Regions from separate parts of the Homo sapiens genome. Here region 1 is linked to region 2. The links come from fine-mapping of genetic effects on gene expression. Tissue or cell type: whole blood. Region 2 holds a variant in brackets; the other region holds the start of a gene. All regions are shown on one strand. Distances are between the middles of the regions.

The links. PIP is the estimated chance that this variant, and not a neighbour inherited with it, causes the effect.
Region 1: it holds the start of MAGI3, and the variant in region 2 is fine-mapped to the expression of MAGI3 in whole blood (INTERVAL, PIP above 0.99).

What each region holds. Positions count from the first base shown.
Region 1 is chr1:113,386,382-113,403,197 of GRCh38, forward strand. MAGI3 (membrane associated guanylate kinase, WW and PDZ domain containing 3) reads left to right here and starts at 4,134. Exons shown (of 21, transcript NM_001142782.2): 1 at 4,134-4,968. The coding sequence starts at 4,653. RefSeq lists silencers at 2,466-2,710, 3,700-3,749, 3,780-4,139, 4,550-4,679, 4,740-4,899 and enhancers at 4,580-5,079, 5,130-5,179.
Region 2 is chr1:113,317,605-113,334,420 of GRCh38, forward strand. No RefSeq gene overlaps it. Among named protein-coding and RNA genes, the nearest start is that of MAGI3, 65 kb to the right of the region's middle. The variant G/T (reference allele first, on the strand shown) is at 12,932.

The sequences.
Region 1 (16,816 bases), 69 kb after region 2:
CTGTGAGTTGCTTACCCAAAAGCTAATCTCCCCTCCCTGTATTTACTAAGAGACCCCTCCCCGCCAAGTTTTGTCCCTATGTTGTGCAGCCAAGAGGCAGGGCCCCCTTCAGAGTACCAGAGGTGATACTGGATAAGTAATAAGATATTTCATTACCCTTGGCAAAGATTCATTTAGTAAAGGAAATTTGGGAAACTGTGGCCAAGAAGCTAGAGGAGAAGTCTTGCTGGAGGCCTTTCGGGGAAAGGCTTCCTTGATCTACAAAAAGGAAATGAGGAAAGGAAATATCCTTTTCCCTCCTTTCAGTCTTTAGCCATTATTGTGTGTGGATGTGATACTTGGAGCCTCTGCAGCCATCTTGGGACTGAACTTGTAAAGTTTCCATAGTGAAACATATTGATATGTTTTGGATATTTGTCCCCTCCAAATCTCATGTTGAAATGTGATCCCCAGTGTCAGAGGTGGGGCCTGGTGGGAGGTGTTTTGATCATGGGGACAGGACGGATCCCTCATGAATGGCTTAGTGCCGTCTTCTTGGCGATGAGTGAGTTCACACCTGACCTGGTTGTTTAAAAGTGTGTGGCACCTCCACCCTCTCTTGTTCCCACTTTCACCATGTGATGTGCCTGCCACTGCTGCACCTTTCACCATGACTGAATCCTACCTGAGGCCTCACCAGGAAGCCAAGCAGATACCAGCGCCATGCTTGTACAGCCTGCAGAACTGTGAGTCAACTAAACCTCTTTTCTTTATAAATTACCCAGCCTCAGGTATTTCTTTATAATGACACAAAAATGGCCTAACACACATAGCTATCTCTAGCTCTATAGATTAGATAGATTAGATAGGGATAGCCCAAAGAAACCTTGGAGATCACCAAATTCAATTGCCTCATTTATTTTTATTATTTTTGTTCCATGTTGTTTGGTTTATTAATATTCCCCAATGGAAATCACAACTATTAAACCAACCATTATTTTTGGAAAGTCGTGATAAACATGAATACAATACGATTATTTAATTAGGTGTCATTTTAGAGATAGAAGCTTAAAATATGACCCCTTTATGTAATAATTGCCAAAATAATATCCTACCAGAATTAATTCAATAGCATGGGTAGCTTATTTCTAGAATATTTTAAAAACTGAACCAAAGCTTACTAAGATGGGTGAATTTAATACAATGTTTTTAGCTTTGTCAAAGATAGTACAATTTAGCACAAACTAAAATAAAAATTTACTGTTTGCTCTATGCTGCATCCTATGTTATCAAATAGCTTGACTCAAATTACTTGACTCAAATAGCTTCATACAGTTCTCACAACAACTCAGGTAAACACTGTCATCAAACCCATTTTGTGGATGAGGAAATTGAGGATAGGCAAGGTTAAATAGCTTGCTCAAGATCACAGAGCTAGCAGTAGAAAAGCTGGGATTTGCAGTAAGTAGAAAAGCTGGGATTTGCAGTCTGATTTGCTCAAGCTCTGAACCACTGCAGTTTTCTGCCCAAGAATGAATACAACTTATTCATGGTTGAGGCATGTGGCAAACACTGTTGGATGCCTACTTAGCAACTATTTCCCCTTTTCTGCTCTCAGTCAGAACACTCATTTTGTTTAGGGGTGACTTGTGATCAATTTAATGAACTGTGGCCAATCCTATCTCTTTTTGCCAGTGACTGGTCTGATGTGGCATATGACCATTTTCTGGACAATAAGGAAGATTCTAAAGTCTGGGAAATATTTTTCTCCTTCATAAAAATGGGGGACAGCACTTCCTTTTCTTCCGTTCCTGCTCTGTGCAGTGACCTCTGTGGATGTGATGTCTGGAGCTATGGCAGCCACATTGCAATTAAGAGGTGACAAACCTGGAGACAAAAGCTCACATGCATGTGATGGCAGAGAGCAAACACAAAAAAGAGCTTGGGTCCTTGATGACATGATTGTACTGCTCAACTAACCCTGAAACTATCTGCACTTGAAATTTATATTGAAGATATAGTAAATGACCTCATGCTTTAAGCTACTGCCAAATATTCTGTTCCTTGAGGCCAAAGGCATTCTAACAGATGCAATCTAGACACAGAAAGATGTTTTCCCAGAGTTCCTGCAAAAACAGATGATGTGTAGGTTATGGAGATTTTATCCAGGAATCCATTAGTATAGGTAGTAGTTTAGAAAAAAAATACTCCAAGCTTTGTCTCAGATATGGTTAAATCTGAGCCATCCACATGGTGTCTGTGCTGAATATTTTCCCCTCAGATGCACTGTTTCCTTTTCTGAAACTGACTGATATGAACTATATCAAAAGCCTCCCTTGCCCTCTGGCGTCTGGTTGGACTTGGCCATTGACAAGCACCAGCAGGAGACTGGAGGAGGGTGGTGAGTTAGATATAAATCCCCCAGGTCCTTTGCTGGGTGTTTACTTAGGCTGACTGCATCCGTTGACTGAAGGTCACAGACTCCTGTCAGGTGGCCCTGTGTGTCTGGATTTTTCGGTAACTGTTCTTTCCCGATTGGACAGATCTAGGAGCTGTAGCCTCAGGGTTCCAGCTTCTCTTGTGGTTTCCCACACCCTGCCCACATCTTTGCAAAATGCCATTTGTTTCCTGCCAGGACCCTGACTGATACAATGGTGTCAACGAAATCACTGCAGCTATTGAAGCTTGGTCCAGTCTATCTGAGGTGTGGAGTTTTATAAGGGCTTTCACCTACTATTAAAGGGAGACAGGAGACTACACAAATAAATGTCATGCTGCAAAAGTGAAACAAAGATCATAGCTCAGAGAAAACACTTTCCACTTGAGGGCAAGAAATCAGAGAAAGCTACCTGGAAGAGCCGGCATTTGGGATGAGGACGGATAGGAGTTTTAAAAGAGATGAGATGAAGGGCATTCCAAAGACAGGGAAGAGTGTAAGTCAAGCCGGGGAAGAGAGAAAGCTCAAGTGAAATTTCTGAAAAATTAGAGCTGGAAGGGATCTACGATATCTTTTATTTAATGTTCGTTCTCCCTTCACCTCCTTTAACTGAGATTTGGCCAAGGTCAAACAGCAAGTAAGTAGCATGTCAGGACTCCAACCAGATCTGCTGGCTACCAGGTTAGTTCTTAATAATCCACCTTCTACCTCCACCCCACTCCCTCACCTCAGGCAGTCTGCTTACTTCTCAGTCTCTCCCACTAGACTGTAACCTCCTCAATAGCGGGGCTTCTGTTTTCTTCACCCTTGAATCCCAGTACCTAGCACAATATCTAACACAAAATCGTCATCGTCATCAGCAGCAGCAGCAGCAGCTACCAAACTTTAAGAGGCAACCACCCACTGTCAGGCACTATGCAGTTATTTTGTACATCTTCTGTAATCTTCACTTTTCACTGAGGACGCTGCGGCTCAGAGAGGTTGTCTAATTTGTCTTAGGTCATACAGCAGTGCCGGACTCTATTTTATAATATCTTTCATCAACCGGACTCCGAAGCCCTGCCTCAATGGGCGTTCAGTAACATCTGTTGAATGAACGAATGAACAAGCAATATCCACTCAATGCAAACTATCGGCTGTAACAGGCCACCCTAAAGGCCCCGGAACCTCGGCCGGCTCAGGACTCCGCACGTTGTCTTCCAATCTAAGCACACCGGCCCCTCTCTGCGCCCCGCACAGGCTCAGAGGCTCCGCCCGCGTCTCCGCCTAACTCGCCGGCCACGCCCCCACTTCGGGGAGCTCGGTCCCTCTCGGATTCGAGTTTTCCTCGGCTCCAGCCGCCGCGCAGAGGGCCTCTCCCGGCCCTGCGACCTACAGCCCCTTCCACTCCCCTGCCCCTCCTCTGCGCCCTCCCTCACTCTCCAAACTTCTTTTTTCCACCCTCTCTAAACTTCAGTCATTCTAGTGCCCGCCTCCTCCACTCGCACCGACCAACCAGTGGTCCCCATTCTCGTTGGCGGTCCGCCTCCTGCCCGCCGGGGGCCAATCCCTGGCGCGAGAGTCCAGGGCCGGGGCTCGTTCCCAAGCGCCCAGCCTGTGACGGCAGCGCGCCGGGCGCCGCGCGGCGGGAGGGGGCGGGGCTCTGGATGAGGGATGGGCGAGGGCCGGGGGAAGGGAAAAGGGAGGAGGAGGAGGTTGCGGCTGGTTTGAAAGCGGCAGTTTCCTGGCAGCTTGGGCAGGCGTTGGTCTCCGCGCTACAGCTCCGCAGCGGCCACGATCGATCCCGCGACGGGTCTACGCGCGCTTCTGCGCGCCCCCCACGGATTTTTCCCGTTCCCGGCTCTTCCCCCTTCACCTCCCCGCCCCCCCGCCTCAGCCTTTCCCGCCGCTCGGGCGCTGAGCCCAGGGACCAGCCGGCGGCAGTGACCCCGCCCGAAGCCCCTTCTGGAACCTCCTGGGGACAATTCCCTTTTCCTTTCTTCAGCCTAACCCGCGGTGGCCCTCGCGGAGTCCGGTCAGCCCCGGGGAGCGCAGCCGGGAGGGGCGTCCAAGGGGCGTCTCGCGTCTGGGAACGGCCGGGCCCCCAGCGGGCTGTGGTCGCGGGGTGGGGGCCGGAGCGGCGAGGCCCCCCTTACCGGGCTGCGCGGGCCGCCCAGGGCCCCCGGGCTGAGACGGGGCCGGAGCGGCGCCCCGGCCGCCCGCGCGGGGTCTCCCCCATGGTGCAGCGGGGTTCGGGATGTCGAAGACGCTGAAGAAGAAGAAGCACTGGCTCAGCAAGGTGCAGGAGTGCGCCGTGTCCTGGGCCGGGCCCCCGGGCGACTTCGGCGCGGAGATCCGCGGTGGCGCGGAGCGTGGCGAGTTCCCCTACCTGGGGCGGCTCCGCGAGGAGCCCGGCGGGGGCACCTGCTGCGTCGTCTCGGGCAAGGCGCCCAGCCCAGGCGATGTGCTGCTGGAGGTAAACGGGACGCCTGTCAGCGGGCTCACCAACCGGGACACCCTGGCTGTCATCCGCCACTTCCGCGAGCCCATCCGTCTCAAGACTGTGAAACCAGGTACGCCGGCCCTGCGTATCTGTCTCGGGGTGTTGGGGAGAGGGGCTTCAGGGTGGGCGTCCTGGGAGCGGCGGCACCTCCCCACCGCGTATTGTCCCGGGTAATCTTAGACCTCTAGGGTGTGCCAGACTCCTTGACGAGGGGGAGGGGTGGCGTTGGTGAGTCCCATTTTGCCGAAGGGAAAACTGAGCTCTGGCTTGGCGCGGTTGCTCTGCTAGCTGTGCTAGCTGTCACAGAATTGCGACTAGAAGCTGGGTTTCCTACATTTGTAGCTCCATCTCCCCCCGCAGACAAGAGTTTTTGACTAGAGAAGGCCAGCCTTTTCCTGTGTTGTGCAAAAAGGCCCTTAGGATTGTAACATTTTCTTTGGAACGATCTTACGCATCTTCTAACAGGGAAAAAGGGACTTTACTATAGAGGCACTTGGTGCCAAGGTTACCACCTGGTGTACCTGGAAGGGCTTAGCTGCTTCAGTGTTTCTTGCACTCTAGCAGACATCTCAGAGCTGACAGCCTAACTCTGTCAGTCCAGGTGGTTCAGGTGTCTGAGTACCGATGACGGTACAATATGTGATATGTGGCAGACTGGTGTGTTCTTGCAGGGAGCTGTTGAATAGAGTCTGGGTTTTGCAGGAAGACCTAGGTGCCTAGCGGAGTGAAAGCTTCTGTAACGCTTTTGATTTTACAGAATTTTGTTGAAGTGGTAGGTTAAAGGAGCCTCTGTTGCCCTGGTATCTTTTATGCTAGTAAAAATTGCTGCAAAGCACGTTATGTTTATGGCATACTCGTCAGTTTCAAAGCATTGATCAGAGACAGCATACAGTGAGATCTGATAGTATGTAGTAGTTCTTATGAATTTGTTATAGACAGCATTGTTGGTTTTGTTTCAGCATAGATAGAATGTGGTTCTGTCGTCTTAGATGTTTGTGGGAGAGAGAATTGTGATTGTAACATTATTAGAAACCAAACTGTTTTTCCTTAATGTGCTCTGCTGAGTATACGGTGCATCAAAATATAATGGGCTGGTTAATTGTTACCTGGGCTAGGTAGCAGTCCATCCCTTGATGGCAAAATGCTAGAAAATTCTGGATAAAAATTTAATATGTTATCTCCTTCTCATTTCTTTCTCAGCAGCTCGCTTTGGAAATATTAATATATCTTTAATAGTCCTTGAGCTTAATGGGGCTTGATGGTTTGTGGTGCAGTTTACATATGTCTGTGTATTGTGGATATGTATACACACAGACTCACATGCTCCTAAGGTCATAATTAAGATTTTCTTTCTATAGCGTATTCCATCGTATTCATTTTAAGTGTATGGGTTTATGTGGTGAGGTTTTCTTTTTATTGTTGTTAATTTTTTAAAACTTTGGCAGACTTTAAACAGCTTTTTCTGTATAGTTTTGAGAATTTGTAAATTTTTTTCTTAACTCTAACTTTTACAGCCATGTGTGAAAGGCAGAGGAAAGACTTTTGGGGCTGTAATTCAGCTAGTCAGGCACTGTCTGTAATATGCAAAAGGCTATATAGACAGCATTTACTAGTCTAGCTGCCAAATCTTAGTTCAAATCCCATGAGTTAGTGAATAGTGAGAACATCTGCATCATTTCTTTGTGTTTTGTTTTGATTCGTTAGGGCATAGATGAGAATATAACTTATTTTTAGAAATTTTAAAGTTGATATATTGACATGGAAGCTGGTGTATTCTAAATTATTGTGATCTTTTTTAGAAGACTGAAGAGATGGCTATTTCATAACATTAGTCTAATCTACCTGTTATACATTTTTCTCAACCTCTATATTATATTTAACAATAATTCAAGATTTAGAGCATTAGTAATATTAACTGTGTTGAATAAACATCCTATGCCCCCGTATGTAGTTGACATTATTAGAGTAATACAGTTTTGCCCTCTTGACAGCCACAGACACTGTTCTATTTTAAAGATTTAGCCAAAATAAAGGGAATAACGTATTAATGGCCACAGAACATTTTGTAGTCATTAGTAATAAAGTTCTGAATACTACACTTGTTTTTTGAAGAGACACTTTGTGTCAGTAATTTCTCAAGATACCATTATGTCTGTGTTATTTGAGATTAATATTGTTTCTAAGCAGGTTGTAATTTAAAATTTTTAATCTCTTTTAAAAATAGTATTCTTAGCTTCTTAATAGCCTCATGTTAGGTATTATATTAAATGGCTTTCTTAAATGGCTTTGCTTAAAAGCAACATTTGTTATAAAATAGCAAGATTTTTGCAGGTTAAACAGACTTTAAATACTAGAAATTAAGAATTTGAAGAGGTTATCTGTAGAACTTTTGAGTTTGATTAAAAACAAATATTATTTTCAGAAGAGACAAAGATTCTTTATTGTGATTCATTTTGGAAAGGATGAAAATAGAGTAAGGGAATTTAAAAAGAAACTTGCCATAAACATTGTTTTATTTTTTGCTTTTATCTAAACTTTGTGACAGAAATTGATTTTTCAATTTAATAAGGTATTGTAAAGTGTACTTAGCACTCTCTTGTCTTGACTAGTTGCTTTTTATTAAACCATATTCATAACATGACATTTAGAGACTAGCACAGTGAAAGAGTAAAATTTAACCATTTTTGTAAGATGTAATACTAATCGGAAATGTTCTCATATTGTCTTCTGACAAAGTCCATGGCAGAAGGATGAGCTGGGTTGTAGAACATGGCTTTTGTAGCACTGATTCTTCCTAGCCTTCTTTTCACTTAGGTGCTAAGGGTCGCCCTCCCAAAGCCAGTACTATCAGCCAGGTGACTTAACATCTTTCTGGCAGCTACTGTCTTTAGCTTTGATTTTTTTTCCCTTTTTTTGTTGTTATAATCTTTAATAGAGAATTGAAAGTTACTCTTTAAAATATGGTTTCTAATCTGAAGCTTTTCCTGAATCAATTAGGTAGTTTCTTATTGTTTTAGTGTAGTACTTAGTAGTCAGTACTTTGCCCGCTTATAGAAGAATCTTTGGTTTCACCTATTGCTTGGCTCGATTAGTTACTTGTTTCTTAATTATGACCCTGTTGTTTATTTTTCTGCAAAGAGAAAAGTTGTCATTTGAGTTTGAACTTTGTCTTTTCCCAGTAGTAAAGTTGAACTTTGGACCTCTGGTGAAATTGTTTTGTGATATACTACTATGACTAGGTTTAGTTTCTTTGATTTTACTACAGAGTATATATTCTTAAACCATTTCTATTCTGATTAATATACAAGTAGTGAATTTTGTTCTGAAATTCCCCAGACTCTAATTGTGCAGAGTTTTATGCTTCTTCATACACCTTTAAGCTCATATTTCAGCAGTTTGCTTTCAGTAAGTTTCAGTAAATTATGTGTATTTTATTCCAGAGATTAAGTATCGGTACAATAAATACATGAAATCATTGTCTACTGCCATATGCACACATTACATTCAACTACCCTAAGCAAGTAGTGTATCCAGGGATGGAAATCATAGGAAACAATGTTATAGTTTGTTTAAATAAAAACCAAGTTGAAACAGTTCCTGGGTAATGTTAAAGGTAGGTAAAAGTCTTCACTGCTGACTCTTTGGGACATCCAATTTGTAAGGGAGTTTTGTTAAAATGGGCTAATTCCTAGAAATACACTTCCTGTTGGTGAAGAAACACTACTGGATGCTTTAAAATAGGAAATATTTATGTTATTCAAATAAAAATAATGCTGTGCCTTTCTTATCTCTTGAATCTTTTTGTTAGTTTTTTTTTTTTTTTTTTTTTTTTTTTTTAGTGGGATATTTAGGATTTTTGATGAGTTTTGTTTAGGTGGTTGTATTATATGAGGATGGGAAAGGTAAGAGAATTTAGAGTTAATTGTTAGCCTCCCAGGCTTACAATACATTTCTTCGTACCTTTTTTAAAACAAGAAAATCTAGAGACCTAGAGATTATTTTAGAAACAATAGAAAAAGAAGCAAGCCAAGCCCCTTTGCTAGGGAAAGTAGCATTACATTTTGATAAACCTTGAAGTTGAAAATTTCCTATTTCAAATTTTGGTAGTTTTTTTTTCTTTTTTCCCTAAAGCTCTTAATAACTCAGGGGTTCAGGTTTTGGATTCTGTTCATTGACACCTTCAATTCATATGAGTAATGGGCTTACACCTTAGCAATTGCAAGCTGATTTGCTTGCATGATATTTGATGACTTTTATTATATCATTAACATCTTTGTACTTAAAAAATATTTTCTCTCCATCATTCTCTAAGAGTACTATATCCAAATATCTCAGTATGTATATATGTATATACGTGTGTGTATATATATATTATATGCATATATGTATATGTATATACACACACACATACTTTTGTTAACTTTTCTTGTATATCATTTTCTAGTATATCATTTTGGGTACTTTATTGATCCTGCCCTCACCCCCAGACTTTTATAATTTAGTTTGTAAAACTTTATTTTCCTAGGTTGAGGCATTTTAATAATTCTTTAATTTCTTGCTATCTTACTGGTACAAACAAATACTTAACATTTGGCCATTTGATTTTTAGATGATTTTAAATTTTATTCAGTTTATTGCTAAAACTGATTTTCATGTAACATAACTCTGTGTTCCTGGGACGTATACATTATTTTTCCTCTGAGATCCTGGCACATACTTTATAAAACCTTTTGTTTTGAGAGACAAATTTTTGTGATTTTTTTTCTGCTAATTTATGTAAACTGGCGACAAAACAAATCTTCTAAATTCATTCAAGTGTCTGACTTATGAAGTCAGTGCCTAATCTTCTCAAGTGATAGTTTCATACAGAGTCTTTACTATGTAACCCCTAAGTGCTTTGTAATTTTTGGGGGGACTTAGTGTTTTGGGAGTATGTTGAAAGAGAATCTTGTTTTTATGGATTACTTCAGTATTATTTACCAATTTCAAAATCTGTGAATGTCAGGGTTGTGTGTGTGTGTGTGTGTGTGTGTGTGTGTGATTTGACAAAAGATAAGTGTTTTGGTATTGAAGACTAGAACCGTTTCGCCTTTAATAAATTATTTTTTGTCTTCTGAAATTTTGAGCAATAATTTTCTTGAAATACTACATTTTGGTAGATAGAGTGAATGCCCTGAATTTAAAACTATTGTCTAAAGTAAGAGTTTCAGAAACTTAGAAGCTGGTGTTATGAGACATGTTTGTAGGGAAAGAGGCAAATCCATTCATTGCTCTTCTAGCTAATTTTGCTAACAAAATATCTTGCTAATATTTTGTTTTTGAAGAACAACTATTATTCAGAATGTTTTCCAAGAAAAGATGCATATTTTATTTAATACAGAAAAAATAAGAAGTCCTATTACTGGCACGCATTCATTCCCTCAGCAAATACTTAGTGGTGCACCCACCAAGTGCCAGCATGGAGCTAGCACTGGCGATATAAACATGAGTCAGAAATTGTGTGTCTTCAAGAAGCTGGCAGTTTAGTGGGAGCTTAATGACTCATTGGTAAGGAATACCTGTAGTAAGGGTTTTGCCTTTTTCACTTTTCTGCCAGTGTTTAAAACTCTTTAGGTAGGTCTTAGTATGAATTTTGGTGAAAATGAGACTAACTGGCTGCATAGTGTGCTATTCGAAAAAGTAGTGGAGCTGCATTTTAGAAAGGATTTGGGTTCTCAAGTCATCACAAAAAGAGGGAAATCAAATATAAGCAAAACTGTCTTTTCAAAAAGCCCTTAAATTGTGCATAAAATACTATATTGTACTGTTTGTAGGATGAGTCCAAATGCCACTTTTCCACCCATGTTGGAACCAATTGCAGTTTTTTGGTCGAATACCAGAAGAAGTAATTTGCTTGCATTAAAAAGATATGTTTTACAAAAAAACTTTTAATTCTAAGAAATTATCCTCATCTAGGTATGTACAGTGAATTTATGGAAATTAAATGTGTACATGAAGTGAAAGAATGATTTCTTTTCTTTTTTTCTTTTTAATATCTTGGTAGGATCCACGCCATCTGCCCTTGTTTTCTGACTTGAGTGGTTGAGGAATGAATTGTGAATAATTTTGAACTTGTTTGGGTTTTGAAAGATGACAGATTTTGGTTGAGTGGAATTAGGATCTTTCCAGTAGTAGGTAAGAAGCAGAGGAGGAGAAAAACACAGGGCAAAAACGTTCCATACAGAAAGGTTTACAGTGTGGTCCATCTCAATAATTTTGTGTGTGTTTGTGTACAAGGGCACAAAATCCACATTATAGAATAATTGGAAATTATTTTGTACAAGGGCACAAAATCCACATTATAGAATAATTGGAAAATAGAGGGAAGATCATATTAATTGTTTAAATGTATAGGTAGTTCCATTATGAATAGTCTCCTGTAAGTTTTTTTTAAATGTGTTATCTCCTCGAAATAATGCTCTAAGGTGCTTAATGCTATTTCTGCCTTCAGCCTCATTCCACTCATAATGTTATACTATGAATATTTTTATTTAACCCTTAATGTACCATTAGTTCTGTTCTTTATGGTTAATAGCCCTATTTTTGTTGTTTTGGAAGTCTAGCCAGTTTTATGGGAAAACACAATTTGCTAGCCTAGGAAAAAGGGAATTGAAAAATATATTTTCATCTTAATCCCGCCTTCCCTTTTGTTACAGCCACAGCCGACTGGCTTCCAGTGAGAAGGGTGGCATCATTATATCTCCATTCTTCCCTGAACCCTAGCAATTTATCCTGATGCAGCCACTCAGCTGCATTGCAGTGGTTTCCAGGAGCAACCCACTTACCTGCAGCCCCCACCCATTTCAGTCATCCCAACATGGCCAGGGGAACATAGATTACATTTTGAGGACCATAATTTGACTTATGACATATCTAAATACCTGAGAAAGGACACGCTGTCCTTATAGGTGATTAGGTACTTGTTTTATTAACACATACTGAGAGATATTGTTTTAGAGACTCTGTATGGGTTATGAAGGGTTAAACTTTTTTGCCATAATTTGTTTGGAGTTTAGGGTTTGGTTTTAAAAAATATCATGCAGTGGTAATTGGAAAAAATTTTGTTTCAAATTTATTAATAATTAAGATCTTTTCTATTTGGAGGCTTCCCTTTTTATTGTCTTGGGTATACAATGTGAACGGTAACCGATCTACTTAATTAAAACTTTCTGGCATTTTAGCCTCTTTGCTTTTGCTGGTTTTTTTGCACATAATTTGAAACACGTAATTATTATTTTCTGGCTTCAGGGGAGTTTGTGAGAGGCAAGCCTGTATCTCGTTGTTCTGATTGGGAATTACACATGACTATGAAAAATGGGATTTTACTATACATAATGGCATTTAACAGAAGTAGTTTTATGAAAGGAAAATATCCTACAAGGTAGGAAAAAAACAAGTATTTATTAATGCTTCATTTTCTGAACTTAAATAGAATTAAGCTAAATTGGCTTTGCTTTTTCCTCCAATAAAATAACTTTTAAAAATTCACTTTAATGGAGTAGTTCCAGAGATATATTACTCTTTGGATATGGTTATCTAGTTTGCAGCAAGTATCTTGTGATATATAGCTTAGATCTCAGCAGGAAAGAAAAAAATCTTAATTTACATATCAGTTTCTGTATTTGTAAGAATTCTGTAGCAAGTGACAGAAACGCTGTTGAGATTAATGTAGGCTAAGAAGAAATTTATTGACTTACATACATTAAAATCCAGGCATAGATCAGTAACAGCTAACTTCTGTTCTCAAGTGTTGGTCATTAGAATTATTATTTGGTTCTCTTTTCTTCTGGGTTGGATTTTTTCTCAGCTAGACTGTCAGTGTAGCGGTGAAGGTAGCTCTGAACCCCGAAGTCATACAGGGTCCTTAAAGCTTCTCATCTTTTTGGAGTCTAATAACAAATCTCATGCAGGGACTTTGGCCCTGTGCCCATCTCTTGGACCAATTATTGTAGAGAGAGGAGAGGACAATGAAGTGCCATGATTGGTCAGGCGTGGGGACATGTCTACCCTTGCAGCTGGGTATAAATAGCATAATATGATTAATAACTGTAGCAGAACCCCAAGACGTAAGGGAGGGGGAGTTCCTGAAAGGGTGGGATGCCGAGGAATCAATACTACAGGAAATGATCTCTTTTAAAACATTTAATCTCTCTTACTTGGAGGCCAGAAGTAGTACACAGTTGTCATAAAACTATCATTTTTAGAAAAACAGATATTGGCTGTAAACCAAAACTGATTTGATTTCTAGGCACTGCTTTTACTCAAATATTTAAATAAAAAATTGCTTTTATTTAAAAGTTATTTCTTTAAAAAATTGAAATACTGATACCTTAATGTGCACAATTTAAAAGTATTTCTTGTAATTTTTATTTAATTTTCTTTAAAAAAATTAAATAAGATTCTCTAAAATCAATGCTGTTGATTTTTAGGGAGATGGAATACTTTGGAAGATTAACAGTCTTTGGCATTGAGAAAAATATTATTAGCCTAGTTAAACAATTACGTTTTTAAAACAATTTTATTCTACCATTTTGAAAATGAAATTCTAAACGAATTACTTTCCAAGGTGTTTTGCTTTTAAAACAATGGTCTTTTTAAACACAAATTGAGACAATGTCATTATTGTAGTATTTCTGAGGGCTCCCTAATAATACTTTTTAACCATGATTTCGTGGAAATTATGTGAAAGGAACTACTTCACTGACTCTTATATAAAATGGGTATATAAGAGTTTTGAAACATTACTTAAGTATGGTGTCATGTGGTAACTGTTTAATTACCAAAAATGTTATTTGGCAGATATTGCAGGATAAAATCTGATCCCCTTTTTAAAGTTTTTTATAGCCTCCACTGGGAGAACAGAGGTACTCAGAGCAGGGGTAGACAGTTGAAAGAGAGGGGTGGGTGCTCCAAATAACATTTCATACTATTTTTATATTCTATTACTGTATCAATGTCTTCAGCTTTGGTGCCATAAAAATAATAATTTTAGTAATAACTTTGAGTTTATATATGCCATGCACAGTAGGAGTTTTGTAGTTTTGCCAAGTGTCATCTGGTAGTTGGATCTTTAGTGAATATTAAATGTTGGTAGATTATTGGTGAATGCACTTACTGTACATAAAAATGAACATTCATGGAATTGGGTGTGATTTGCCAGTAAGAATCATCATAGCAAGTACTTTGTATTGTTAGATTAGTTTGGGCACCCTTCGGATGACTTTAGACCATATTTGGAAAATTACTGCTTCTACTTCAAAAGCCTGTAATAATTAGAGTTCTCCAATATTAATTCCATATATTGATTAATTAAGCCATGAAATCTAGTAAAATGATATAGTCTTTATTACCTCTGTTCACAGAATTGTATCTCAATCCAACTTGGTAGCTTTCAGCAGAACACTTTGTCAAAATATTATTAATTTTAGCTAAGAATTCTATTCACTAATTTCAGTGTTTAAGTTAGAATGCACATGCTAGTGAAAATTTTAATTTCCTTTGAATAGAATTAGATTTGCTAACTAGAGCAATCTCACAATGTAATGCTGATGACTGAAATGACACTTCAGCCTCCCTTGGGTGACAACCCTAAGTTTAGACAACCTTACTCTAATAGGAATATTGAGGACTTATCACAACATATTAGCTGTCATTTAGAGTAATAACTTCCATGTCAGGGCATTTTATACCTGTCTTATTTGGTTTATAAGGATGTATATATTAGCATTCATGTTTTCTTATAAAGAACTTTATATATTTTTATTCTCTATGAGTCAGATATTATCATCTTCCTTTACACATGAGAAAATTGAGTTAGAGAGATTAACACGTGAAAGTTCACACAGACTCACAGGAAGAATTATGAACTGACACAGCGTTGAGTCTTTCTTTACTTTCTGGATAGAATATTAGTTCATTATATCCAAAAAACCTGTCTTCCTTTTTCTAGTAAAAGGAAAAAGCACAATTCTGAATTGTTTGCGTGGGTGTTAAATGCAGTAAAACACTGGGCAAGTACTTACAATAAAGGCTTCACTGCTTGGTTCTGTTTCAAAACAGAGTTTGTGGCCGTGCAGTTTAATCTGTACAGCTAAGCTGCATGATAAAGTAGTTATTTCCAAGAATTGCTAATCAAGCAGAAAGTTAGTATTCTTGCTACATTTGTAAGAGAATATTTTCAGCAGAATATTTTTATTGCGGAAAATATTCTCTATAATATGTAAAAGCCCAGATAAATATATTAGATACATATTTTAGGATAAATATACTTGGGAAAATTGCATATTAGAAATAATATTTTGTTCTTGTGTTTCCTTTCTACTTCCTCTGTAATTCACTCACCAGGAAGGTGTTAGCACATTTACTGAGAGCCTAGAAAATGTTCTGGTGAATGTAGAAAGGAACGTACTTTAGAATTAGGGATCTTTTATAAGTATGCAGACCCTTCTCACAAAAGTACACTTTGCTTGAATAAAATTTAGCTAAGCTAGGTAAAAGAATAACTCATTGCATTTAAGTAGACCTTTCTCCTTCTAGACTTCGAGTATTGCACACCTAAGATGGATCCTTTGAAGAGGCAGGTAAAGCAGGTTGTGGATTGTTGGAACCTCTTATTCTTTAAGTGTTTACGCTGTTATGTTTTCTCTCTGGGCTAAAGTCAGTCACTTGAGTGGAAGGAAACACAGCAATCCAATCTTAGTATATGGATAAACAATTCGAGGCTTAGCAATGGCAGAAGTCATAGCATAAGCATGGTAGAGCAGAGACTAGAACTCAGATTGTTTAGTTCCTTTCATTGTTCTAGTTTCTGGCATAAGAATTTGTGTAGAAAATTGGCGAAAAAAGGACCTGTTAAACATATTCTGTTTCTTTATGAAATCTGCATTCTCTTGGAACTAAGTGTAATGTGCTAGACTCAGTTTGTTAGGCCATCAGTGTGCATGAATGTGGTTAGAGGCAGTGGTATCCCCGAACCTGCAGCACAGGAAAGAATTTTAATCATTATATGCCATGGATTTTCAGGGCATTTTAAGCCTTTATAATGGTGTAACTTATGATTAAGATTTACACAGTCAAAATTGTTAGCTGGTATAATAGCTGAATAGTTAAGTATTTATTTTGGTTAGTTACTTTAGCTTTAGCTTTGAAAAATCATTTTTCCTATCGGAGATTCTTCACAATGCTTTCAGTAAAATGTTTCTGAATAGTTCCTGCTATATGGTAGACTGCTAACACTGTTTCTTGCTCTCTCTGTGGGGCTGATGCTACAAGTCTGATTTAGAGTCAGCTGTGCTTTTATTTTTTTCCTTGAGTGACTAGGGGATGCATTGGGGGAAGATAAATTTTAGGGCAAGAGGACACTCAGGGTTGTGGGAGATGAACTGTCAAGGATACCTTTGGCTCACTGTCCTCAAGCTTGTTCGGCTGCAGTGATGGCATAACTGAGAAGAGGGATTGTGCTCTTGCTGGGTGCGGGACAAGAAGATGTCTCAGGCCACGTAAAGCTGGCCACAGCAGAGGACAAGGTATTCCCTGTGAGGCAAAACTGAAGAAAGGGGATTGAGGTGGCAGTTCTGGGGAAACTATGTTTGTTAGGTAGACTAATGGGAATGATGGAGTCTTGCTTGGGCTCTTTGTAGGTCAGTGGAAGAACAGCATGAATGTGGACATGAAAAAATCTTTCTGCAATCCATTTACCACATACTCCTTTGCAATATCAGTCAGGGTTCAGTGCAGGAAACAGAAGGGGATATAATGCAGGGAATTAATTGCTTAGGGAATCTTTTGAAAGGGCTGGAGGGCTGGGCTCTAGACTGAGCCTCTGAGAATGATTTCCAGGACACCTTGAAACAGTCCACAGTGGGAGCTGCCACCTCTGC
Region 2 (16,816 bases):
AGCAGACGAGTATCTCAAGAAAATGTGGTACTTCCACTGACTTTCTTCACAGAATTGGGAAAAACTACTTTAAATTTCATATGGAACCCAAAAGGAGCCCACATAGCCAAGACAATCCTAAGCCAAAAGAACAAAGTGGGAGGCATCACGCTACCTGACTTCAAACTATACTACAAGGCTACAGTGACCAAAACAGCATGGTACTTGTACCAAAACAGATATATAGACCAATGCAACAGAACAGAGACCTCAGAAATAACACCACACATCTACAATCATCTGCTCTTTGACAAACCTGACAAAAACAAGCAATGGGGAAAGGATTCCCTATTTAATAAATGGTGCTAGGAAAACTGGCTAGCCATATATAGAAAGCTGAAACTGGATCCCTTCCTTACACCATGTACAAAAATTAACCAAGATGGATTAAAGACTTAAATGTTAGACCTAAAACCATAAAAACCCTAGAAGAAAACCTAGGCAATATGATTCAGGACATAGGCATGGGCAAGGACTTCATGACTATAACACCAAAAGCAATGGCAACAAAAGCCAAAATTGACAAATGGGATCTAATTAAACTAAAGCACTTCTGCACAGCAAAAGAAACTATCATCAGAGTGAACAGGCAACCTACAGAATGGCAGAAAATTTTTGCAATCTACCCATCTGACAAAAGGCTAATATCCAGAATCTACAAAGAACTTAAACAAATTTACAAGAAAAAAAACCATCAAAAAGTGGGCAAAGGATATGAACAGACACTTCACAAAAGAAGACATTTACGCAGTCAACAGACATATGCAAAAATGCTCATCAGCACTGGTCATCAGAGAAATGCAAATCAAAACCACAATGAGATACCATCTCATGCCAGTTAGAATGGCAATCATTCAAAAGTCAGGAAACAACAGATGCTGGAGAGGATGTGGAGAAATAGGAATTCTTTTACACTGTTGGTGGGAGTGTAAATTAGTTCAACCATTGTGGAAGACAGTGTGGTGGTCCCTCAAGGATCTAGAACTAGAAATACCATTTGACCCAGCCATCCCATTACTGGGTATATACCCAAAGGATTATAAATCATACTACTATAAAGAGACATGCACACATATATTTATTGCGGCAGTATTCACAATAGCAAAGACTTGGAACCAACCCAAATGTCCCAAATGTCCATCAATAATAGACTGGATAAAGAAATTGTGGCACATATACACCATGGAATACTATGCAACCATAAAAAAGGATGAGTTCATGTCCTTTGCAGGGACATGGATGAAGCTGAAAACCATCATTGTCAACAAAATATCACAAGGACAGCAAGCCAAACACCGCATGTTCTCACTCATAAGTGGGAGTTGAACAATGAGAACACATGGACACAGGGAGGGGAACATCACACACCAGGGCCTATTGGGGGCTGGGGGGCTGGGGGAGGGATAGCGTTAGGAGAAATACCTAATGTAAATGATGAGTTGATGGGTGCAGCAAACCAACATGGCACATGTATACCTATGTAACAAACCTGCACGTTGTGCACATGTACCCTAGAACTTAAAGTATAATAAAAAAAATGGTACTTATACAAAATGGAGTACTATTCAGTGATAAAAAAAGGATGACTTCCTGTCATTTGCAACAACATGGATGGAACTGGAAGTCTTATGTTAAGTGAAATAAGCCAGGCACAGAAATACAAGCTTTGCAAGTTCTCACCAATTTGTGGGAGCAAAAAATAAAAACCACTGGACTCATGGAGATAGAGGGTAGAATGGTGGTTACCAGAAGCTGGGAAGGGTAGTCGGGTGAGGGAAGGGGGAAGGATAGTGGTTACAAAAATGTAGTTAGATAGAATGAATAAGATCTAGTATTTGATAGCACAATAGAATAACTACACTCAACAATAATTTATTGTATATTTTTGAATAACTAAAAGAGTATAAATGGATTGTTACAAAAAAGGGATAAATGCTTGAGATGATGGATATTCCATTTACCCTGATGTGATTATTATGCATTGTATGCCTGTAACAAAATATCTCATGTACCCCATAAATATATATACCTACTATATAAGCAGAAAAGTTAAAAATAAAAAATTTTTTTAAAAATTGAATCTTGGTATTCATAATTATTGACTCAATATTTTCTTACTAAGACCATTACTGAATAATGACCATGCTTTTTGCCAGACATAGAATTGTTCCAAGGAAGTCTAGGGTCTAATATAAAGCAAGGTATTCTATAATAGTATAATAATAATCCTGTCTGTGCTATCCATTTGTAATTAGTCCATTCAGAATCATGATCTTAAAATAATTTCATCTAGTAGGATATATATATATATTACATATGTATTTATATATTTATAAAATTGAAATACATATATATGTATCTATAAAATGGAAATACATACATATTTATCCTGTCATTTTCAACAATATGGATGGAACTGGAGATCATTATGTTAAGTGAAATAAACCAGGCACAGAAAGACAAACTTTGCATGTTCTCACTTATTTGTGGGAGCTAGAAATTAAAACTATTGAACTCCTGGAGATGGAGAGTAGAATGATGGTTACCAGAGGCTGGAAAGAATAATGTAGGCAGGGAGTGGGAAAGGTTAATGGTACAAACATATAGTTAGATAAAATGGAAATACATACATATTTCCATTTTGTAGATAGAAAAAAACAGAAGCTCAGAGATGTCCAGCAGCCTGTCCCAGGTTGCTTGGTGAAGTGTTTTTTACAACTCCTTTGCCAGTGCTCTGCCTCTGTTATGTAAAAAAATACAAGGTGGTATTTGTAGTATCACTTGCTATGCAGCCTGTAATGGTTAACTAGATTAATTAGTCATAAGTGATTCAGAAGCACTGGGTAAACATGGGTGTGTATACATAAATGATCAGTCACATATCAAATAGCTTTTAGCCTACATATGTTTGAAGAAGGGTGCTCTAGGAAGAATTTTTAAAAGCTAAGCTTCAGAAGTAAAGGTTCTTATGCAACACTGATATTAATATTCTATAAAACTATTTAAAATTGATTAGGTTGCTATATCACTAAAAATCCAGAGGGAACTAATAATTTTGGAGTATTGCCCAAATGATGACCCCAGGCAACCCCTGAAACCAGCAGTGAATACTGCGTTAGGATTTCAATCTATTTATTAATATTATGCTTCTACACAAAGAACACAAAATAGAGAGAAGAGAGGAGAGCAATGGCCTGTCTAGTTGATATGATCAGTATTGATAATTAGAGGAGATAAAGAACAAGTAACAGATTTTGAGATTTTTGTCTGAATTGTCTGAATAATTGTCTAAGCTGCTTGTGTGTGTTTGTGTGTGTGTATGTCTGTGTGTCTGTGTGTAGATTCAGAGATGAAAATGAATTTCAATTTTTAAAAATCCATTCCTCATAATTGGTCCTAATGCCTAATGATAGCATTTTTCAAAATAGAAGTTCATCTGATATTGTTGTTAGTAGAGGCAAAGGGAAAGGGAGTCTCTGCTTTCTGGAAAGCTAGCAGCATGGCATTAGCTCACCATAAGTATCAGTGGTGCCTATAGTGACCCTCTTGCCCCCCTTTTCTCTGTTCTCACACCTATTGTTACGTAAGAAACTCCCCTTTTCTCTCTTTCTTAGAATTCTTATGAAGAATTTCTGCTCTTGCTCAGCACTGTTGTTCTTCCAATGCCCTCGTGTGAGAGAATAAGAATTACTTGCAAATCAAATTCCAGGGATTTGCATGGTAGACTTGAAGCTCTTGCTGCCTTTTGTTGGATAACTAAGATTGGTTTGTATCTTGTACAAACATTCCTGTCATTCATTAAAAGAAATGTAATAGTCTATTTAGGTATGCAATTCCTTCACTTCTCCAAACATATGACCTGTTTGCCTCTTCAGAAGAAGCCAGAGAGCTGGATCAACCTCTTTTGGCTGCTAAGTTACTGTACTTGTTTCTATTACCCTTGGTCCACGTGTATTGCCAGGAAAAAGATCTTCCCTTGAGCTTCAAACATTTGATTCTTAACCCCATATATCATTCTTAAAATTATCAAGATGACTTTGTTAAGCAACTGCTAAGCTAACTCATAGGTATTGCCAATGGCATACACTCTTTATCTATAGGAAAATATTAGATAGTAATGTACTCAGAAACTTGGAACAATTTTTTTTCTTTACAAAGTGATAATGACCTCTATACTTGACCTCCCAATTAAGAGTGTAGTTTAAAGAAACTGCCAAATGTTCACAATTAGGCAATAGAAAGACCTACTTAAGAAGTAGAAAGCAAGCTTCCCATCTGTGAAGTCTTTACTACCCACATGGAACAAAGATAACATAAAAATGTCAAGTGAACAATTACATATGGAATTCTAGGAACTCTGGAAGGGAGGAAGAACCAGAGGAGTCTTCCAGATCAAGGATCAACAAACTCTTCTTGTAAAGAGACAGAAAACAGATATTTTAGGCTTTGCAGGCCATATGTTCTTTGTTGCAACTATTCAGCTCTGCTTTGTAGTGCAAACGTAGCCATAGACAATAATGAGTATAATTGTATTTCAATAAAACTTTATTTATAAAAACAGATGGTGGGCCAGCTTTGGATCATAGATTGCTGATTCCTGTCCTAGACCAAACCCCTCCCAATATAGAAATCTCATCTCTAGCACCCAGACCATTCTATATTTGGACAGTTGTAATAACTGGAGGTTTTCCTTATACAAAGTTACACCGTGTCTCTCTGAAACTCTCACCCACTGTTACCACCGTTGCCTCTGAACTAGACCATGACAGTAGCCTCCTAACTTATCTCTCTGGTTCTACCTTGTCCTTCCTACAATCAATTCTCCATAGAAGCCCCTTAACTAGTCCTTATAAAATGTAAGCCAAATCATGTCATTCTCTGGCTCAAGGTCCTCTGATAGTTTTCTATAACATTTACAATAAATCAAAATGCTTTACCTCAGCCTATAATTATAGGCCTGAAATACCTGGTTTCATGACTGTTTCTCTGATCTCATTTCCTACTACTCACTGCTCTCTGGCCACACTGGCTTCTCAGTGTTTTCCAACATACTATGTGCATTCCCATCTCAGGGCGTTTGTGCTGGTTTTTATTTGTCTGGAATTTCTTCTCCCAAATGCTTGCAGGGCTTGCTCCTTCTTTTCATTCAAGTCTCTGCTCAAATGCTACCATCTCAGAGAGGCCTTCTCCAGCTGCATTATCTATCCTGCTCCATGCTCGACTGTATATTTTACCCTGCTCTATTTTATTTCATATCATCTAACGCTAACATTATATTATACATATGAATGTGTGATTCTTTTTATAATTTACTCCCCCAACTCATGCCAGTTTTATATCAGTAGGAATTTATGTGCCTTGTTCACTGTTGTATTTCTACTGCCTAGAGCAGGAACTAGTATATATCAGTTACTTACTACATATTTGCTGGATACATGATAAATGTGGCTTTGCCCAGTGCAGTTTCCAAAAATACATATGATCACTCTTCCATATGACAACACTTCTACACGTGAAGGCAAGCTCTATATTCTTCCTAAATTTCCTAGTATCCAGGGATATGTAGCTTCCACTCCTGTAATATTTGCATTACTCCCTTAGGCCCAATAACTGGTCATGATCCTTAAGTTTTGACCTTAGGCTTCTACCTACATTTGCTCATCAGGTTACATCTGCCCCTGGTCACTCTGGGTACCTACTTTACCAGATCTAGTTTGACTTTTGGGACCTCTACTCCCTAAGGTTTGCCCAGGCACTTGTGAAAGGGAATCAAACACCAGTGTGTAGACATTTGTCATTCCTTTTAGCTGCTCAGTGACTGAACTTCCCCTTGGGTTTGAGGAATCTCCTCCCCACCTTATGAGACAAAGACCTCTATTCAGCAAAGAATCTGAAATTTCCATATATTCACTTTCCTAACCACCCTTACAGTAAGAGTGCTGTCACATGATCTAGCCTTCACCAATCAGATACTCTAGTCCTAAATTTCGTGGCAAGAACCAGTGAGGTTAAGAAGCAGCAACTGACCAAAATCCATTCTGGTGGTGCTGTGACAAAGGTAGCCATGACGTTCTGTTTCAGAGGCAGCAAAAGCAGAGGTTCTAGTGCATCCAGAGCTTATCTTCTTCTGACTTACTTGTGTACTATGATTTATTATGTATTATGCTTATTGTTAATTGTGTTAGAATGTTAGCTCCATAGGGGCAGGAATCTTTGCTTTGTTCAGTTGTGTGTCCCAAGCATCTAGAGCAGGGCCTGGCACAAAGTAGGAGCTCAATAAACATTTATGAATGAGTGTGCGCTGAGATGACCTTTTTTTTTTTTTTTATTGAGAGGGAGCCTTGCTCTGTCACCCAGGCTAAAGTGCAGTGGTGTCATCTTGGCTCACTGCAGCCTCCGCCTCCCGGATTCCAGTGATTCACCTGCCTCAGCCTTCCAGGTAGCTGGGATTACATGCACGTGCCACCACACCCTGCTAATTTTTGTATTTTTAGTAGAGATGGGGTTTCACCATGTTGGCCAGGATGGTCTTGAACTCCTGACCTCAGGTGATCTGCCTGCATCGGCCTCCCAAAGTGCTGGGATTACAGGCATGAGGCACCGTGCCTGGCTGGAGATGACATTTTTTCATCTATCAGATTGATAAAAAAGGCTTATCTGTGAGAGTGTGAAGGAATAAACATTTACACATTGTTGGTGAGATCATAAATTGCTGTAAACATTTTAAAATGTAAGATTGAAAATAATTTCATATCCAGGAATTATGCTGCACAAGTACACTGAGATCTTAATTCAAAGATGTTCATTGCAGGATTCTTTGCAATAGCAAAATATTGAAAATAAACAAAATATCAATCCATAGGGAACTGGATAAATAAATTTTTATATATTCATAGAGTAGAACTATATGCATTGACATGGAAAGGTTTCCAGACCTAGAACCCTCGGATATAAATAGTACCTAGTACTATTTTAGAAACTTTAATAAACAATTTTTTCAGAAAGGTATTCACAAGTAAGTTTTTTGCAGTGGTTGCTTTGGGGAAGCGGGTAGGTTTGGGGTTGTGGAAGGGGGGAGATTTTTGCTTTCTCATTTTATGCCTTTCTATACTATTTTACTTTCTCCCGTATGTGTGTATTATTCATATTTGTAAAAACAAAGAAAATGAAATGAGTTGACTTTTATCCCCCTACTCTGTCGTCCAGACTGGAGTGCAGGGGTGTGATCACAGCTCACTACAGCCTCAACCTCCCAGTCGAGGGGATATTTCCACCTCAGCCTCCCAGTGCTGCTAATTTTGTCTTCTAAATATTTATTGACCTCACCCCTCCTCTCTATCCTCACTTTTTGCCCTGTTTAAGGCCAGCTGGGACTACAGGCCTATGCCACCATGCCCAGCTAATTTTTAAAATTATCTGTAGGGACAAAATTATTTGTAGAGACAAAATTATTTGTAGAGACAAAGTGTCGTTGCCCAGGCTGGTCTCAAACTCCTGGGCTGCAGCAATCCTCCTGTCCGGCTCTCCCAAAGTGCCGGGATTACAGGTGTGAGTCACACATGCTTGGCCATGAGTTGGCATTTTTACTAATCAAGTTAGCAAAGTGTTTTGGTTTTGTTTAGTTGTTTTTAATGATGATTTTCTGCAGGAAGAGATATTGTGAAATGGATAACCTTACAATACCAGTGGCATTATAAATTGTTGCAATCCTTTTTGAAAGAGGTTTGATAACATGTAACAAAAGGTTTTAAACATTTGTATATTTTGATACTGTAAACATTTTTAAGAAATCTATCTTAAGGAAATCTGTCCCATACATGGAAAGCACTTTATATATAAAGATATCAATGAAATTATTATTTTAAATATCCCAACATTAGAAACAAATATCCCATAAAATATGAATTAAAGCACATCCATAGACAGTCAATATTATCTATTTAAAATAATATTTACAAAGATTTTGTTACAAAATAAATACGTTTGAGGTGTAATGTTAAGAGAAAAAAATATCACACACTGTTAGACTTAGTGGACAGAATGATCACAACCATGTTAAAGGATCTTCTTAGAAAAATACTGACAGGAATGTTAATTAGTGGGTAGCAGAACTTTTTCTTATCCTAGCTTTCGATAATTTCCAAGTTTTCTAAAATAAGCATTTATTATTTTATATTGGAAAAATAACTATTCTGTAAAGAGGAAATGAGACATGCTTGGTATGATTTGTTCATAGTCAATGTGTTCTGAGGCTAAATTAATCCACCATTTTAATTTCTAAATGAAATGTTCATTTACTGTTTCCAAAAATTGGCTACAGCATTTTGCCAAGGACCAATCATCAAACTTGCCAATTTTTATTATCCAAAGACACTCATTACTCATCACCAAGTGCTGCTAATTTTGTCTTCTAAATATTTATTGACCTCACCCCTCCTCTCTATCCTCACTTTTTGCACTGGTTAAGGCCTTTATCCTGACCGCACCTCCAGCTTCATTCTGGTTTCCCTCCATTTCACCCTCCACTCTGCCATGAGAGCAGTCTTTTTACAACACTGTTATACCACATTATTCATTTACCAAAACCTTCCCATAGCTCTTATGGCCCCAGGGCCACAGGGTTCTTGGTGAACCTACCAGACTCTCCTGACCCAAGCCCTGTCTGCATCTCCCCATCTCTCTTCAGCTGAGAATACAGAGGTGCTCATGGTTCTCTGAGCTCACCCTGCCACTTTACAACTCCTTGGCTTTGTTCATACCATTGCTTCAATCTAGAACCTTCTTCATTTGCTAACTCTCTGCCTTCCCCATGCCTCAGGCCCAACATCTGCTCCTCCAGGAAGACTTCTCTGACCCACCAGGCTGGGTCACAAAAGTGAACAAACCAATACTGCTTGTTAGGTTTTCAGAGCATTTGCATATAGAATAACACATCTAGCCCTCGTAATAACCCCGTGAAAATGGCAAGAAACACATTATCCACATTTTACAGATAAGAAAGGTAAGATTCAGACAACATACTTGGTTGAAATCATGTGGCTCATAGGGCAGAGCCAGGACTGGTACCCCGGTAAACCTTGACCTTAAATACAACGTTTGGTTTTTGTTTTGTTTTATTTCCTTTCGTGCTTGCTTTCTGAGCTGCTAAGATTAGAGAGGCAAACCTAGAGAGGCTGAGGAGCTGTTCAGGAGAAGGGGAATCTAGCTGATAGAGAATCTTGACATTTTTCAGTATGTCAATTGCCTTTTTCAACTCCAGAATTTCTTCCTGATTCTTTTTAATTATTTCAATTTCTTTGTTAAATTTATCTGATAGAATTCTTAATTCTTTTTCTGTGTTACCTTGAATTTCTTTGAGTTTTGTTCAAACAGCTATTTGAAATTCTCTGTCTGAAAGGTCACATATCTCTGTCTCTCTGGGGTTGTTCCCTGGTGCCTTATTTAGTTTGTTTGGTGAGGCCATGCTCTTTTGAATGGTCTTGATGCTTATGGATATTTGTTGGTGCCTGGGCTTTGAGGAGTTATTCATAATCTGGGCTTGTTTGTACCTGTCCTTCTTGGAAAGGCTTTCCAGGTATTTGAAGGGACTTGGGTTTGGTGACCTAAGTTTTTGATCACTGCAGCCATATCTGCTTTAGGAAGTACTCCAAGCCCAGTAACACTGGTTCTTGCAGACTCGTAGAGGTACGCCCATGGGGTCTTGGATAAGATCTGGGAGAATTCTCTGGATTACCAGGCAAAGACTCTTGTTCTCTTTTCTTACTTTCTCTCAAACAAATGGAGTCTCTCTCTGTGTGTTGAGCTGCCTGGAGCTGAGGGAGGGGTGACACCAGCATCCCTGTGACCAGTACCTCTGAGACTGCACTGGGTCAGACCTGAAGCCAGCACAGCACTGGGTCCTGCCCAGGCCTGCTGTAACTACTCCCTGGCTACTGTCTATGTTCAATCAAGGCCTTGGGGCTCTACAATCAGCAGGTGGTGAAGCCAGCCATGCTTGTGTCCCTCCCTTAAGGGCAGCAATCCCTCTGGCCCCCAGGCAGGTCCAAAGATGCCGTCCTGGAGCGAGGGCCTGGAGGCAGAAACCCTAGAAGTCTACCTGATGCTCTAGTCTAATGTGGCTGAGCTGTCACCAAAACCACCAGAAAAAGTCCTTCTCACTCTTCTCTCCCCTTTTCCCAGGCAGAGGAGTCTCTCCCCATGTCTGCCACCACCATAAGTTCATGGAGAGTACTGCCAGGGTACCACTAATGTTCACTTAAGGCCCAAGGGCTCTTCAGTGAGCTTTTGGTAAATGCTGCCAGGCCTGGGACTCACTCTTCAGGTAAGTGGGCTCCCCTCTGGCCCAGGGTAGGTCCAGAGATGCTGTCGAGGAGCCAAGGCCTGGAATCAGGGACCCCAAGAGCCTGCTTGCTGCACTTTTCCACTTTGGCCAAGCTGGTACCTAAGCCCACATCAAAGTCTCCTTTACTCTTCCCTCTTCTTTTCTTGGGAAGAAGGGGTCTCTCCTCATAGCCACCACTGCTATGAATGTTCTGGGTCACACCTGAAGCCAGCACATCTCTGAGTCTCATCCAAGGCACATGGTGTCCACTACCTGGCTACTGCTGCTGATTATTCAGGCCCAAGAGCTTTTTAGTCAGCAGTTGAGGAATTCTGCCAGGAATGGGTTCTCCCCTTCAAGGCAGCAGGTTCCCTTCTGGCTCAGCATGTATCTAGAAATGTTGTTCAGGAGCTAGGGCCTGGAATTGTGGCCTTATGACTCTGTCCAGTGCCCTGTCCTACATTGGCTGAGTTGGTATCCACATTGCAAAACTAAGTCCTCTTTACTCTTTTCTCTACTCTCCTCAAGCAGAAGGAAGGGGTCTCTTTTGAAGCTGTGAGCTGCACTGCCTGGGGTTGTGGGAGAGGTGGTGTAAGCGATTTCTTAGCCCTGCCCAGCCGGTGTCTCATTAGGTCATGCACCCACAGAGTCCACTGGATCTAAGCCCTGCACAGTCCTAGGTCTTGCCTAGAAGTTGTAGTCCTTGTGGCCTAGGGTGCCTTTCAAGTTTATTTAGAACCCCACAGCACTTTAGCCTGTGGGTGAGGCTTGTTGAAACCTAAGTTCCAACTGCCAGGATGGGCAATTCTTCTCTGGCAAGGGTTGGTCTAAATGCTCCCTCTTGTGAGTGCCAGCTGAGTTCTGCCTGGGTTGGCAGCAGTGTATTCCAGTGCAAATTCCCACAATTACTGCATTCTCCCTCTCCCAAGAACATATAATTCTCTCACCATGCCATTTGGCCATCCATTGCCAGGGGGATGGGGAAGGGGTGGTGTTGGCAATTCAAGACTATCTTTCCTCCTCTTCAGTGCCTCTTTCAGAGATATGAAGTTAAAACCAGGTACTGTGATTGCTCACCTGATTATTGGTTCTTATGAAGGAGCCTTTTGTGTAGTTGTTAAATTTTGTGTTCCTGTGGGGAGGATGATTGGTGGAAGCTTCTGTTCAGCTATCTTGCTCCACCTCCTCTCTCCCACCTGCCTTTGAATCTCTGTCAAGATGCAAATGATGGCGGCTGACTCCATTGCGAACTCAGAATAAATAGCCTTCGCTTTTCTCGTTTGGTTGACCTTTGTTTATTTCGGCACTTGAGAAATAAATGAAGAGCTTTTTATTATTCTGGAAATTATGGGAAGACTCTTGGTATTAAAGTATCAACATAGGATACTTTACCTTTGATATCAGTAGCAATTGTGAATTATATAAACAGAGTCCAAATGACTATTAGACCAGAGCAGGGCAGGTGCAGGAAGGATGAAAAACAGAAATGCGTAATTTGTATAAAAAGTAGCCATATTGGAAGAGGTATCAAATATGTAATTTATCTTTCCAATCATATTCCTCTTTTTTCCTTGAGAACAAGTTGCATATGTATCACTGTTAGTCATGAAAAGGGACATTACCATTGAAGCTATTCCTCTGTTCTCAACTTCCTCTACCTCTTTTGGTTCCTGGTATTGCCTTCTTTCTTCAGTCAGCTTGATATAACCCTTTTGCTTTAAACAAAAACATCTTCTTCTTCTTATATTTCACCAAGTCATGAGACCAGCTATGTAATTTGTGGGCCTAGCACAGAATGAAAATGTGAGGCCCCTGGCTCAAAAAATATGAACAACTTTTAGATGGTGACAGTAGAACATTATTAATTCAAGCATGAGGGCCTCCTGAGTTGCTTCTAAGACCCACACAGGTTACACACCTAGAAAGCCAGCCTTGTTAGGCTGAAAGGTAAACAAATACATCTTAGGAAACCTTTCCTCTTCTTTCTCTGCTTCATTTTCTCTTTGCTTTGCTAAGGCAATAATCTCTGGGAAATGCCACCCTTTTTATAACAATAAAACAAAAAGAAGATGAGCAGAATTTCCCCCTACCTTTCTATTCCCAGTTAACCCCCGTTTATATTTTGGAGGTTCTATGCTCCCAGGGAGGAAAGATTCTGCCTCCATACTCTCTTTGGTCTTCATCAACAGTACTTTATCAACTCTGAGACCTAAGATCCTACAAACTAAGCATGTGGGACCATCAAATGGGCTTTTCTAGGCTGGGAGTCCACATAAAAGCAAGACTAACGCATTCTTTTTAAGAAAGAACAGAAATCTTTCAGTGATAGATAAAAATTAGATACGGAAAGTTCATAAACTGGGTTAAGTGAATCATTAGATCGTGCTGTTATTTGCTAAAAATAATAAAAACACACACTGAATAGCAAATGGCCATGAATATTTAACCATCACAGATTCCTTTTTTATGTGCAGTGCATTGTAGCTGTTCTAATGTACAACAAAGAAAGAACAGTGGGAAAGTGCTGTAGACCTAATGGGGATTTTTGTTGTCTTTCTACCGTAAAGAAAT[G/T]AATCTCTCGTCTTGTGGTTTCAAAATACCAATCTTTGGCAACTAAGACCAGATGATGCTTGTAAATATGATAATCAGACAACAAATCCATTATTCATCCTCCCCTGGAAAATGTATTGGCATAAAGTTTAGGCAGTATAATTTCAGACAAAACCTGAAAATTTTTCAGAACAGGATTTAACTAGGACTATATTTTATAAAACTGAAAGCTTACTTTAAATTACATAACATATAAAACCCAAGCACCTTGAACTCCAATGGGACTTTTCCACCATCACCAACATGAGTTTTCTGGTCTTTCAAAAAAGTTAGGGCATTTAGTACAGTTGTCCCTTGGTATTTGGGGGATTGGTTCCAGGACCCCCATAGTTATCAAAATATGTGGATGCTCAAGTCCCTGATATAAAATGGCATGATATTCGCATATAACATACATACATCTTCACATACACTTCAAATAATCTCTAGATTACTGAGGCCAGGCAGGGTGGCTTACACCTGTAATCCCGGCACTTGGCTTTGGAAGGCCAAGGTGGGAGGATTGCTTGAGCCCAGGAGTTCAAGACCAGCCTGGGCAACATGGTGAGACCCTGAATCTATAAAAAATACAAAAATTAGCCAAGCATGCTGATGCATGCCTATAGTCCCAGCTACTCGGTAGGCTGAAGTCGGAAGATCACCTGAGTCAGGAAGGTTGAGGCTGCAGTGAGCCATAATCGTATCATTACACTCCAGCCTAGGCAACAGAGTGAGACCTTGTCTCAAAATAAATAAATAAATAAATAGATTACTTATAATACTTAATACCATAGGCATGCTATGTAAATGGTTGTCATATAGTATCTTTTTAAAATTTTTTAATTTATTGTTATTTTGAAATTTTTTAAGTATTTTGATCTGTATTTGGTTGAATACACAGATGCAGAACCCAGACATGTAGAGGGTCAACTCTATACCTCTATTTTTTCTTTGTTTAGGATCTTGGGCCTCTAGAGATTAAGGCACTAATAGGACTAGTCACCAGGTTGGTTATGTCTTCCTTCAGTCCCATTCTCACATAGCATTTGTGCTGGTAGACATTTCCTGGGGACCATTCAAGCCAGTGTGCTCATCACTCCCATCACCTAAAATCCTTTTAATTCCCTTCCCTTCCCTTCAACTCTCATGCTTTAGAAATATTTATCTACCAAAACCCATTTACTAAATGTAGGCTTAATATGGGAAACTGTTATTTCCATTAGGCTTCATGAATTAATTAAAATAATTAAAGGATTTCCCCCTTAATAATAATAACTAAGGTTTACTATGCCAGGCATTGTTCAATCATATTGTATCTATCATCTCCGTGTAAACCCCGTAATAAGCCTATGAGCCTTATATTCCCTGATAAGGAAACTAAGCCTTAGAGAGGTTGGGGAATGTGCTCAAGATCACAGAGCTCTTACCCCATTTGCCCATGCCCACAAAACTCATCGGTGTCAAGTCAGGACTAGAACACACATCTTCTGAATACTAGTTCTGTGGTCTTTTCTAGCTAAAGAAATATTTACTGAGCTGCAACTATGTGCAAGACAATGTCCTGGATTCCAAGGGAATACCGAGTTGTAAAGGCCCTTTTTAAAATTATTTCCAGGCCAGGTGCAGTGACTCACGCCTGTAATCCCAGCACTTTGGGAGGCCAAGACTGGCAGATCACTTGAGGTCAGGAGCTCGAGACCAGCCTGGCAATATGGTGAAACCCCATCTCTACTGAAAACACAAAATATTAGCTGGGTGTGGCAGCGTAAGCCTGTAATCCCAGCTAGTAGGGAAGCTGAGGCAGGAGAATTGCTTGAGCCCAGGAGGCAGAGGCTGCAGTGAGCCAAGATTGCACCACTGCACTCCAGCCTGGGCGACAGAGTGGAAAAAAACATATGTCCAAAATGCTCACCACTCTTAGGTCCTTCTAATCCATACTGCACGCTGACACACCATGAAGATAATTTCCTTAAAGTCTTTTTGGATCAAAGTATTTTCAGCTATTCTCTATTTCATAAAGAACCAGTTCAAGTCCCTCTGCAAGGCACTTAAAGGAGCTGGTACGGTAGAAAGAGGAAGGATGTGCTGACAGACATGGGTTTGCATCCTGGTGCTGTCAACAACTAGCCTTACAACTTTAGACAAATCACATAATCTGTCTGAGACTCAGTTTTCTCACCTGTAGACCTGGGAAATAGCAGGGTTGTTGGAAGTATTCCGTAGGTAAGTAAAGGGCCTGGCGTACAGCGGGTAGCAATAAGAGTCAGTTGCCTTCCCTGTCTCTCCCACCAATTCTAGCTCCAATATAATTTTCTAAGACATAGACCCTCTAGGTCAGCCAGGCTGTCTGCTTACCACCCGCTGGACATGGTTACACAATCCTTCCTTTTCTTAAACATTCCCCCTTGGTCTAGAGGGCCCTCCTCCCTATTGTTCCCTAATCTAGCTAAATCTTTCTCACCATCCAAGACCCAGCTCAAGCCTACCTGCTTCTTTATAGCCCTCCCAACAGAACACATTCTCTCATGTTTTCTCAAAGCACTATTGTCTGGTTATAGATTCAGTACCCTACACTGTCATTAAATTTTTCATGCTTGTCTTGTTTCTCCAAAGGTGCTGTGAGCTGCTTGGGAGCAAGGGCAGGGCCTTCTTTTCTTCGTATCCCCCACAGAGATGATTGCAGTGTGACACCCATGACAAGTGTTCAATAATCACATGCTAAGTGTGTGAATGAGTACTGCATCATATTGCATTTTGTTAAATTATATGTGTATGCCTGGGAGTTGAAATGTGAGAAAATGACACGGCTCTTTCTCTTCCTAATGCAGATTGCTTTTTAAAATATTATCTATCCAACCTGTTTTTTTACATATAGTATTTTTTTTTCTCCAACATTTCAATACACCACTTAAAATTCGACCTAAAAAAGAAAGTATTAAAGCATGTGTTTCAAATGGGGGGAAAAATCCAGCAGCTATGACTAATGTCTTCAATTTATAGTATATCCAATTTGGAGAAGACCATGCTTTTTCATAAAGTTGCATAACTGCTAACAAAAACATTTTCAGCCACAGGATGTGTTTTTGGAAGAATGTAGCCCTTCGCTAGACGAGGAAAAATGTAAAAACCAAGGGCACAGCTTTCCTTGATACACGTCTTACCCAATACAGATAAGGCACTCAAATACTTATCAAATTGAATGTTCTCTCCTTATATAATGTATGATATTGGGCAGAAGTAGGTTGTCACATTCTTCATATTAATGGTTCATTCTAATTCTACATAGCTTTTCCTTGTGAACTATCTAGGTATTGACAACTATTGAGTACCATCATCAAAAAGGATTAAAGGAAGTGAGTGAGGGATGATGTCATGTATTTCTACATCTACCTCTTCTGGATTAAATAATCAAAACAAAGAGGCCTGTATATTACCCACTTTCTAATATTTGTTGTTACAGCCCTTTGGACATGAAATAATAGTGAATAGACTTTCAAATGAATCACAAGAACTAGAGCTCCAGTTAACTTGTTGACTGCAGTCATGTAAGAAAGTAAGACCCCAAGGAGGGTAACAGGTTAGACTGGTGAATACCTGAACTTAACACTGTGCTTTGGCAGTCTTTTTCACCCTTATATATGAGAATATAAAATCTGGGTCAGAACCAAGATGTATAAGTCTGACTTGAGAATAAACTGAACACAATCTCTTTAAAATACACAGAAGTAAAAGTTTTTAAAACTCACAAACTGTAACTTATCAATAGTCCAATAGAAAAGTTTAAACTCTTAGTTGCATAACGATTCATATTTTTATTTTTAAGTGTGCAAAAAAAAGTTGAAAGCAGCAACATCTGACCCTGTTGTC